Linked DNA regions of Homo sapiens. The protein of the gene in region 3 purifies or fractionates together with the protein of the main gene of each other region. This does not show direct contact. Each region holds a gene or a part of one and is shown on either strand. Other genes may lie near its edges.

The links.
Region 1: the proteins of CCDC80 (region 3) and PPP2R3A purify together in Homo sapiens (co-immunoprecipitation; one large-scale study listed by IntAct). This does not show direct contact.
Region 2: the proteins of CCDC80 (region 3) and ISX purify together in Homo sapiens (co-immunoprecipitation; one large-scale study listed by IntAct). This does not show direct contact.

Annotation. Positions count from the first base shown.
Region 1 is NC_000003.12:135,968,625-135,972,279, reverse strand, and holds part of PPP2R3A (serine/threonine-protein phosphatase 2A regulatory subunit B'' subunit alpha), read right to left. Parts: intron 1-3,655. UniProt on the Homo sapiens protein: The B regulatory subunit might modulate substrate selectivity and catalytic activity, and might also direct the localization of the catalytic enzyme to a particular subcellular compartment.
Region 2 is NC_000022.11:35,069,097-35,072,751, reverse strand, and holds part of ISX (intestine-specific homeobox), read right to left. Parts: intron 1-3,655. UniProt on the Homo sapiens protein: Transcription factor that regulates gene expression in intestine. May participate in vitamin A metabolism most likely by regulating BCO1 expression in the intestine.
Region 3 is NC_000003.12:112,596,250-112,599,828, reverse strand, and holds the end of CCDC80 (coiled-coil domain-containing protein 80 precursor), read left to right. Parts: 3' UTR 1-3,032; downstream 3,033-3,579. UniProt on the Homo sapiens protein: Promotes cell adhesion and matrix assembly.

The DNA.
Region 1 (3,655 bases), about 23 Mb from region 3:
TGAACCTCGTATACATTGTGCTGAATGAAAGAAGCCAGGCACAAAAGGTTACATATTGTATGATTCCATTTATATGAAATCTTCAGAACAGGCAAATCCATATAGACAGAAAGCAAATTGGCGGGTGCCAGACGGTAGGGGTAAAGGGGAATGGCGAGTGACTGCTTAATGGGTACAGGGTTTCCTTTTGGGGTGATGAAAATGTTCCAGAATTAGCGGTGATGGCTGCACAACATTGTGAATGTACATACTGAAGTAACTGATTTGTACACTTTAAAATGGTTAATTTTACCTCAATTAAAAAAAATCACACAGTTCACCCTTGACAAATCCAGGAACTATACTCAGGAACTGACTCCAAGTCCTCTCCCCACTCAGCTATCCTGTTTCCTCCACAAACCAAAGGAGCTCTGGACCACCTTGGTAATGGACTTTTGCCTCTATATACTGCCAGCCAGGCATAGTACCTAACCATATTTGTGATGATGGAATTCCCACAGCTGTCCAAGCATACACAAGTTTCTAAATAAGATATTTTCTTATAATGGACTCACATTACAAACCATCTTGGACCAAGGTCTGCTTTCATGTCACAAAGTCATCCTTTATACAGAAGTTAACCATCATCCACCTAACTGATAAACCAATGACAGCTATGAAGTCTGGTCCCTCACAAGATGATATTCCTGTTTTCAAGAGTATAGCAATGAGGTTTATGCCTTCAATTAATCAAAACCATTCTTAACCAATAATTCTTGGCATTTTCCACCCCTTATATTTTCTGTTCTGTTGGCAGGCTACAACTCTTAGAAATATGAAGCACAAAATTGACCTTAAAAGCCTCTCTGCTAGGTTAAGGTTGCCAATGTGGCAGAAATGGATAAAAGACAAACTGGTTGTGACCATTTGCATTACAACCCATCCTAAATAGTCACTCTAACACCAAGTCTTCGAGGTAGAAGCCTTCACACAACTTTTTGGAAACCAGTTTGCTCAGTGCTTTCTTCTTTCTGAGCTCAATGAGGGCCTACATCTCCAACTTACATCCATATCCCTCAGGTACCATCAATGATAAATACTTCAAAGTATGAGAGTTTTTACATGCATGCAACTGGAAAATTAAGCTATAATATCAAGTTAATTGGAAAAAATACAGCTGCAAAAACTATTCCTGGGAATCTCACAGTTAGATACACATTCCCTAACATAGCCAAGTATTCCATTTTCAGCATACCAACAATATAGTCTTTGTTCATCAGCTCAATGGGAGGATGATGTCAGGGTCACTGGAGCCCAGATCACCACTGGCCTTTAGGAGCTCTACAGCTTTCCAGTTGAGAAAGAAACTTGTGGCCTAATCACCAACATCTGAGTCAGCCCCTTCAACAGTCCTGGCAAAATTTCTTCTCAGTAAAAAGTAGTCTCCAAAACAAGACCCCTAAGAACGTGGGAGAGGGGTAATCAGACACCATTGACCTACATCCCTAAAAAGTTAGGAGAAATGTTTGAGTAACCAACAGACTAACACCTACATTGTAGGCATGTAAGACACCTCATCCTCCCTCACCACTTCCTCTTTTTGGGCAAGCTTCTCAAAGGAATTTCCAACACTTGCCACTCCCATTTCCTTACTTTTTACCCACTTCATTTTGGTTTCTGCCTCTTCCAATCTAAAATGGTTCTTGCTGAGGTCAAAGACTCCATCTTGCTAAATTCAACAGATCATTTTTGTTCCACATCTTTACTTGATGACACCTCTCTATTTGAAACATTCTTCTCTCACCTTTTATGATGCATCTTAAACTAGAATTAGATTGTGAAGGAAACAGCTAAGACAAAAACCAAATATTGTTTAAATTACTCTTGAAAATCCTTTAAATGGCCCGTTAAATATCGCACACCTGTATACAAGTAAATAAAACTTTTCTCTCTCTCATTTAATAAAAAACATGGTAGAGCGCATTCAGTTAAGTTTGCACACTTTAATTCTGAGCAAGGCGTCATTCCACTGTACCTCTGTGGCCACTTCTCATTCTCTTCCTGGGCTATCCTCCTCTACTAAACTTCAAAATGCTGGGCCTGAGCCCTTTTTTCTTAATCTCTGTCAGTGGTTCTCAACTTCCACAGCTAAGTGGAATCACCTCAGATTCGTCCAAGGCAGCAAATCAGATCAAGTAAACAGAAAAAGAAATTTCTTAGGTGGACCACAGCATTAGCATTTTTTAATCATTCAGTGATTCCAATGTGCAACCAAGATGAGAACACTGTTCTATGCTCTCTTCCCAGACCAGGGATCACATGCTCAAAAGCCTACAGTCAGAGAAATAAATGAGCAAAGTGGGCCAGGCATAATTTTAGGGAGTGGTGGGCTCTGTAGTGAAATAGAAGAGCTGCGATCATCTGTGACTTAGCTCCAATTATTGCTGCCATATTGGAAAACCAACTCAGTAGTGCTACATTTTCTCATTTTTAAAGAGAAACCCCAAATCTGGATTTTTCATGAGAAATCTTCAGATTTTAAAATATTGGCAACTAATTCAAAATTAAACAATAACAAAACCACTGTATGGGCAAAACATCTGTGAGTCAGATTCAGCTGTAGGCTACTGCTTTGCAACCACTGCCCTAGATAATTTCATCCACAGCCTTTAATTTACACCTAAAAATTCGTGCCTCCAGTTTAGCCCTCTGCTCTTGGCTCTGAATTAGAATTGTCAAATGCTTATGTGACCTCTCACTTGAAAATCTCAGCAGTCCCAATGTAAACTGTGATTTAAACTCATCTCAAAACTATTTATCCTTAAATGTTCTTTACTTCAGGTAACACCACCACCATTCACTGGTTGGGCAAGCTAGAACCCTGGGAGTCATCTTAGGATCTCATTTCTCCCTCTCAACCCTTGTACCATATCAACCACCAAATCCTATCAATTACGCCTCCTAAATATATCTCATGAATATATGTACTTCTCTCCATCTCCAATACGACCATTCTTTTCTCTCAGCCACCACCTTTTCTCTCCTATGTTATCCACAGTAACCTTAATTAGGGGCAGCTGTCTCCCACACTCAATCTTGTTTCCTTCCAAAGCATTCTAATATGACCAGAATATTTTATAATCACAAATAATTACAAATATATACACATATACACGCATTACATAAATATATACTTATGTAAATATATGTGTTTGTGTGTTTATTTCACCCAACAATTCCATTTCTAGGAATTTACCCTATAAATATATTTATTCACATATGAAACAGCATATTCGTAGCACTGTTTACGGTAAATTACTGGAAACAATCTAAATGTCTGTCAGTGGGGGAATGGTTAAATAATCTATGGTATATCCATACAGTGAAATACTGTACAGTCATTCAAAAAAATAAGGAAACTATATACTGAAGTGGAAAGATTCCCAAGACATTTTTAAGAAAACAGAGTGTACAGTATGCTACCATTTGTGTAAAACAGTAAGAGGAAAGATATGCATTTCCTTGAATGCCCACAAAAAATGTCTACAATGATATACAAAACTAGTATCAGTGGTTATTCCTTTGGAAGACAGGGAAAATGGTAGCTGGGGGAGGGAGCAGAACCCACCAAAAATGCTCTGATTTGCTTGGAGGAGGGCCCAGGCGTCGGTCTTAA
Region 2 (3,655 bases), on a different chromosome or scaffold from region 3:
GGTATGCCTGGCACGCAGTAGATATTCAGTGGCTATTTGTTGCCTGTCTGGATAAATAATACAGTGGATAAATCAAACTTAAATTATAGCCAATGTTTTAAGCCTCCTCCTCTGCCCATTTGGATTTCTCCTAGCTCTGACATTCTGGGCCCTATGATTGTAGTTGATGTTGTCAGTGGCTGGCTTGTATCACCCAGACCTTTCCATGCTCCATATCTACTTCTTACTGCCAGGGTTTGTCTTTAGGGATCAAATCTTTGGATAATTCTAGGGAGTATGTTTGCTCCATTTCCCAAAGGATTTGAGCTTCAGTTACTCATAGGGGCCACTGGTTTAATAACACATGCTTTATTCATTGCCTCCCCTTCCTTGTATTATTCCACTACTTCCTTGCATGTCCCATATCAACTACTTGTGCTCAGATCCTTTCTTTAGGGTCTGCTTTTTTGGGGGACCCCACACTAATACCGTGCTCTTTTTTGCAGGTAGGGGCCATGCCTTGTACTTTCTTGTGCTCCCACAGGGCCTGAGACTGAGCCAGGTTCTCAATTCTAGAACCAGTCTCCAGGTATCCCTGTAGGAAGGTCCCCATAGCTCTGGTGCCAGGAACTAAGAGATGGAGTCCATTGGAGGAAGACCAAAGCACACTTCTCTTGAGGAAGTGCCTGTTTTTAACTCCACATCCTTTTGCCCTGTTCTCGTCTGCTCTGATGGGAGCTCCTGGGTCTACCTGGGTAAGAGCCAGAGCTGTTAATCACCAGGTGATGAGATACACACAGGCCTTAGTCACAGCCTCAAACCAGGGCTGCCTCTCCCAGTTCCCATAGCAGAGCAGCTGTCTTTGATTTCAGGTAGTTCAGGGGAGGAGGAGGGCTACGGAAAGGAGGGAGAAGTGAGGGAGGAGGAGAGGAGAAAGAAGTGAGGAACAGGGAAGGAAAAGGACCCTCTCTCCAGAGGCGCCTGACCCAGGGTACCTCTCCCTTTCTTGTGGGGTCCTTTCTGCTGCTTCTCCCAGTCTCCTGAGATAGCACTGAAGAGGCCCTTTCTCTCCGACTGGGAGCTGACAGTTGTTGATCTGTCTTTGCCAGGAATTTTGCTCCAAATAGTCTTTGTAGATATAATTAAGGCTCTGGGCATAAGATCATTGCTGATTTAGGGTGGGCCCTAAATCCAATGACAGGTGTCCTTATAAGAGAAAGGGACATTACACACAAACACACACGGCAAGGCTGTGAGAAGATGGAGGCAAAGTGGAGTGATGCGTCTACAAGTCAAAGAAGAATAAGGGTTGCTGGAACCACCAGAAACTACGAGAGAGGCATGGATCAGATTTTCCCTTGGAGCCTCCAGAAGGAGCTATCTCTGCCAATACCTGGATTTCAGACTTCTGGCTTTCTGAATGGTAGGAGAATACATTTCTGTGTTTTAAGCCACTCAGGTTGTGGTAATTTGTTACAACAGCCATAGAAAATTAATACAGGGAGGAAGAGGGGAAAGAAGAGGAAGAGGTGGCAGGAGGAGCAGTGGTTTCTAAATGGCAAAGACACCAAAGCATTTAAAGGGCAAGAAAGGTTTGGAATTTGGAGAGGAGCTGCCTGCACCTCGAAGGTAGACAGGGCCGGGGAGGGTGTGATGGGAGGTGAGCCTGGGATGAACAGGGCCAGTCTGGGAAGGACTTTGAGTGCCACACTAATGTGTCAGGGTCATGTCCTTGATGAACTGCAGCATGAGGGCCAAATCTGGCCTGACCCCTGTTTTTGTATATAAAGTTTTATTGGAACATAAGCCTACCCATTTATTTACACATTGTCTACAGATGAGTTTCAGCTGTGATAGAAGAGTTGCGTAATTGTGACAGAGACCATCTGACCATCAAAGCTTAAAATTACCATCTGTTCCTTTGCAGAAAAACATTGCTGTCCCTTGCTACAGGATGCTTCTCAAATGCCAAGAATTCTACCATGCCCCTGGCCAGCTCCATCAGACAAGATGGGCAGAAGGCAGCACTGCCCCAAGGTGGCACTGCCAGGGACTTCCATCCCCCTCCAGGTGAGTAGTCACTGCATCTTGTTTTATTCACCTTCACCTCCCCAGCCCCCAGCCTGGCCCAGAGTAAGCACTCAGTGATTAGTCACTGACTGAATGAATAGATGGTGAGCAGGCAAGGGAAGATACCTGGGTTCCCCACAGGCCAGGCAGTCCATACTGGTTTACCCACTGGGGTGGTCTGTCTTCCTTGTCAATTTTCTATCACCTTTCGCCTGGGGCCTATGATTTCCCCACAAAGGATTATCAGTGGTAGAGATGCAAAGATGGTCTCCCTCTCTCTCTTCCCAGGATCTGAGCTTTCAGTATAAAGAGGCTTCCTCCTGACTGGGTCTCCCTTAACTTTGGAGGGTCCTGAGTTTTGGAGGGCTTCCCTCTCCTTGGAGGAGAGAGCAGGAGGCTGGGTGTAGAATCTTTTCAGATAAAGAAGTCCTCTTGGATTTTCCCATTGACTTTTAAGACCTGGGAGGGTCCAACCTATAGATCATGAAGGTCCCTGCAGGAATGGGAAGATGTCAGGGGGGACCTTGGTCCCTACCATGAGAAATGAGGACAGTAGAGCACTACACTAGCCTTGGAGCCCAGATAACTAGCCTGGCCCCATCTCTTGCATGTACTGGCTCTGTAGCTTGGAAGAAACCACTTCACCTTATTGAGTCTCAGCTTCCTCTAAGGACCACTTCCTTGGGCCACCAACATCAGAATCATTTGGGAGAGCTTGTTAGAATGCAGATTCCTGGGCCTTTTCACTTAGAGTCAGAGTCTTGGTTGCTGGGCCTGACAGGCTGCATTTTAATAAGATCCCTAGGTGAGATGGCAAGGGTTGTCTGTGAGCCAGTCTAGGAAGCCTTTTAAATGTTAAGTGGAGACAAAGAGGAACTTATTCCTCTATCATTATTCTTGGGGCAGGAGAGGGTGTTGCTGTTTCTGCTCCTGTTGCTCTCTGCTGAGGGGTCCTGCACAAAAGGAGGGACGTAAAACAGGGAAGTAGAGAAGCATCAGCCAGCAGCAGTAAGCACAGGCCTGGGCATGAGGGCTCCTGTGAGGGTAGGGAGAGGCCTTCCAGTCTCTCTGCTCCTGCCCTGCCTGGGATCATGACCATCCTTTCCCCAGGGAGAAAGATTCTACAGTGGAAAATCACCACAAGGGAATCCTGCAAGGTTTTTCAGCAACTAATTTGTTGTTAAGTTGGTCATGGCATGTCAGAGCTGGGAGAGACCTTATGAATATTCTAGCCCTGCTCTTTCATGTTACAGGTGGGGAGATTGAGGCCAGAGAGGGAAGTGACTGGCTTGAGGTCCTCCCGTGCACTGGGGCCAGATCTGGGCTTAGAGGGTAGGTTTCCTGAAACCCTGCCCTTCTCACCCAGTGTGTTTCAGAGACTCCAGCTCATTTGCAATTTCTGCAGGTTTCTTTTATATAGTTTCTGGCAAGTTCATATCCCATCTGTATTATTTGTTTAGCATTTTCCCAAATAGACTTTTGTGTTTGACTCAAATAATAAATGTATTTTAAAATAATACCTTATATCATGATCATACACAGATAACAGTGTCTTTCATCATAAATACAAGGTTAGTATAAAAGTAATTACAGGACTATTGAGCTA
Region 3 (3,579 bases):
TGAGGTGAATATTAATTCAGCAGAAAGATCCTTTTCTGCTACATAGGCAGGAGGTCCAGACACAGGGGAGTGGGTGCAACCCAGCTGGTCCCATTTTCTGTAATATAATTAACAATGAAGCTCATACTTTCTCAACTTCTAGAAGCCTGGAGGATGGAAGCAGCCCGAGAGTAGGGTGAATGATGGCCTCAGTGGGCCCTTCTTAATGTGTCTCAGTACTGAATGTGTGGAGATTGTAGAAAAATAGAAGGCCCTTGGAAAAAACCTCTGTTCGTTTCTCTGTTCGTTTCGCTCCCTGATCTCCCTGCCGGATTGCTTTTCTTTCCTTTCTCTTCCTTGGCTGTCCTTTACCTCATGGTGTGGGGTGTGCAGATAGCAGGTTGTGGCTTGGTGAGTGCTCTTCACTTCAGGTCAAGGTGAGGCACAGTTAACATGCTAACTACTTTCCTCAGTTCTCTCTGAGTTGTGTAAAGCTCCCGATGCCAGACTTCCTCTTAATTTTGCACATTATTAAAGTCCAAAGAGTTAAGATTTGGTGATGAGGGGCAAAGGGCCAGCTGTCACAGAAATCAATGAAATGATACACAGAAATGGGTATCATGAAAAGGCCACTGGACTTGGGAAAACTGGGTGCCTGTCCTTGCCCTGCCATGTACTTACCTGTGTGACTGGAGGTGAGATGTTTTACCTATGGGCCTCAGTTTCTCATTACAAAATGACAGAGAAGACTAGATACCTAAGTTCCTAAGTTTGTGACATTTGTGAATTTTTCTTGGCCCTCTGTGAGTAGAGTGCTAAATTTAGAGGCTTCCTGTGGTTGAACTGATGTCCAATTCTCAGGGAACCCAGACTTCTCAGTTCAGAACCCAGTTCCAGATTTTTGTGGGAATAGGGAAAGGTATTAAATAACTCCATTGAATTCTTTCCTGCATAATGCCCTGCTGTGGCTGAGACTCAATGAGGTCATCACCTCCAACACACAGAACCCCTCATCATCTCCTTACAGCCAGACTGGAGCTTCCAAGGACATCAGGTTGGCAAGGATTGTGAGTACCCTAAACATCTAAAGAGGCCCTCTAATAAGGGACATATTTGTTCTTCAACAGTTTCCTAACTTGAGACCACAAATGCGTAATCTCTCTAATATCCTAAAGCTTGGACAAACTGGGCAGCCCCTGAGCAGACCGCACAGAGCTTAAATGTCAGTGCTTTCCTTCCAGAAAGAAAAAGAATGGTCCTACACCTCCCAATCCATGGGCTGATACATATGCCAAGGGAGCCGGATGAAGAAGTGGGTGATTTTAAATAGCTAAGACTGCCCATGGGCAAACGTTCTTTGGCTTTTCTCCTCTGCAATAAGTATACCTTCCTCTCTCCTGGTCCTTTTCTCCTTTCCCAGGCCCCTCTATCAATAATAATTCTGGCTCTCAGATGACTACAGTTGATTAGGTGGAACTGATAGGATAAAGGTGACACCCTTCCCAAGGCTATCTATAATGCAAAAAGATATCCAAGAAAAAGAGAGGTAGGGAACACCTTGGGAAACCATTTCTGGAAGACAGCCAGTCCCTGCTGTAGACAAGCCTCATTTTCCTTCCCCCAAATGTTAAAGAGTAAATTCCTCCTGTAGCCTTAGCTCTCTTTTCTATCTTTGGCTTGCTTTTTATGAACTATCTTTAGAGTGCCAAATTAGAACAGGGTAGGCAGAGGCAGGAATATGCCCAAATTTGGGAAGACCTGGTTGGGAATAGTCGAAAGCCTTGATATGTGCAAAGAAAGAACCATTTGATCAACCCAGTTCTTAATACAGGATACTAACTTAAAATTTAGACTCAAGTTATACGATAATTCAAACATTTATTGTATTTATACTATTCTATATGTACTTTTCCAGGAACCAGGAATACAAAACTGACATTTCTCTGTACAGAGGCTCAGACTAGTAGAGAACAGTTAGGTACGCCGTTAATTATAAACTAATATGTATCATCAATTATGGGTTTTTATGGGGGTTTGGCAGGTGGAAGGGACCAGGGAGAGATGATGAGTGATGATGGTTATGTAGTCTTTAGGAGGATGCAATTATAACATTGCTCTTCCTTTCACGCACCACATGATTTAGCAAGTACTTCATATTGGCTCCACCATTAACATGGTCAATGGCTTCTGGATACTCACAGTTCAGGCACAGTTTCTCCTGAAGATTTTTTACCTCTCCCATCTTTAAGAAATTGTCTGGATGTCCATGAAAGATGCTGACACTTGTATTAATTCATTAAAAAACACCACCCCCTCCCTGAAATAAACTAAAAAGTAATGAATTCATAGAAAAAAATTTCACCAAGATTGAAACTAGAGAATATACCTAGACTTGCACTTTGAGCTTTGAGAAATGTGTACCTATTCACCATTCCAACGTGAAGAAGCTCTGCAGTAGGAAAAATAATTAACACACTTATAGTCTACTGCCCATGTAAGGATCAGCTCCGGCTAAGAGGCCAAAGATGGGTGACATCGTTATGCTCTGCCTTTATTTTTTCTTTCTTACCCACTTAGCTTCCTAATTGGAGGAAGGAGGCGTGGTAAAGGTATATGAAGACTATGGTTTAATTAGACCAGAAAACACTGTCATAATCTCTGGGGTCATCAGAATGTCCAGTTTTGTCTTTGGGCCAAGATAAGGGCAGTGGGATTTATGATGTGTTGTTTATAGTCTGAAACTACTCTGGTGATCACCAGGGTCAGTTTCTTTAATGATGGTTTCCAACTGGCCTAATACATTAAGTAAGACTGGCTGATAACATGACCAGACAGACATAAAGACCCTGTTGGGAATGACATTGAACTCTCAAAGTCAAGATTTCTTACACAAATCTATCAGCTGGAGAAAATGAAGGCAGTGTGGTATATGTGTGCAAATAAGGACATTATGAAGCTTAAATATGGAATGTCTCTTGGACCCCCGATGTCATCTGTATTCTCTTTTTCTTCTTGTACTATATCCTTTGCCTGTAAATAAAAGGTTTATTTGATTATGCTGTGTGGAGTCTGGTTTTGCAGGGCAGAATATATATATTAACATATATACAAAATATTAAATCTAAAATGTTAAAATAGTTTATATTGTACGTTAAACGTATAAGACATAAATATAAAACATACAAAATATTATATAGTATTTATAAGTATAAAATATAAAAAATTCTAATTACCAATTTCACAGCTTTAGAGAAAAGTTGTGTGCTGCTTTCAAGGAACTTCACTTAACCAGATTTCTCACCAAATTAGGGGGCTTAATCTAAAACAAGAGAAGAAACTAAAATTCAACTGATACTCCCTCCTCACAAACAGGAGACAGTAGTAATTGTATCTGTGTGGAACTGGCTCTCAAAGCAGGAGTTTCAAGCAATGTAGAGGAAAAGCACACACCCACAAAATTCCCTCATTGCAATTTTCTATGGCTCCTGCCTTCCTTCCACATCCTTGAAGTAGCTTCCAGCCCTTTAGAATAAGTTAAAGATGGCATTCAAACATTGGTCAGGAAAAGAGGGATTAGGTAAGGAAGATTCTATCTATGCT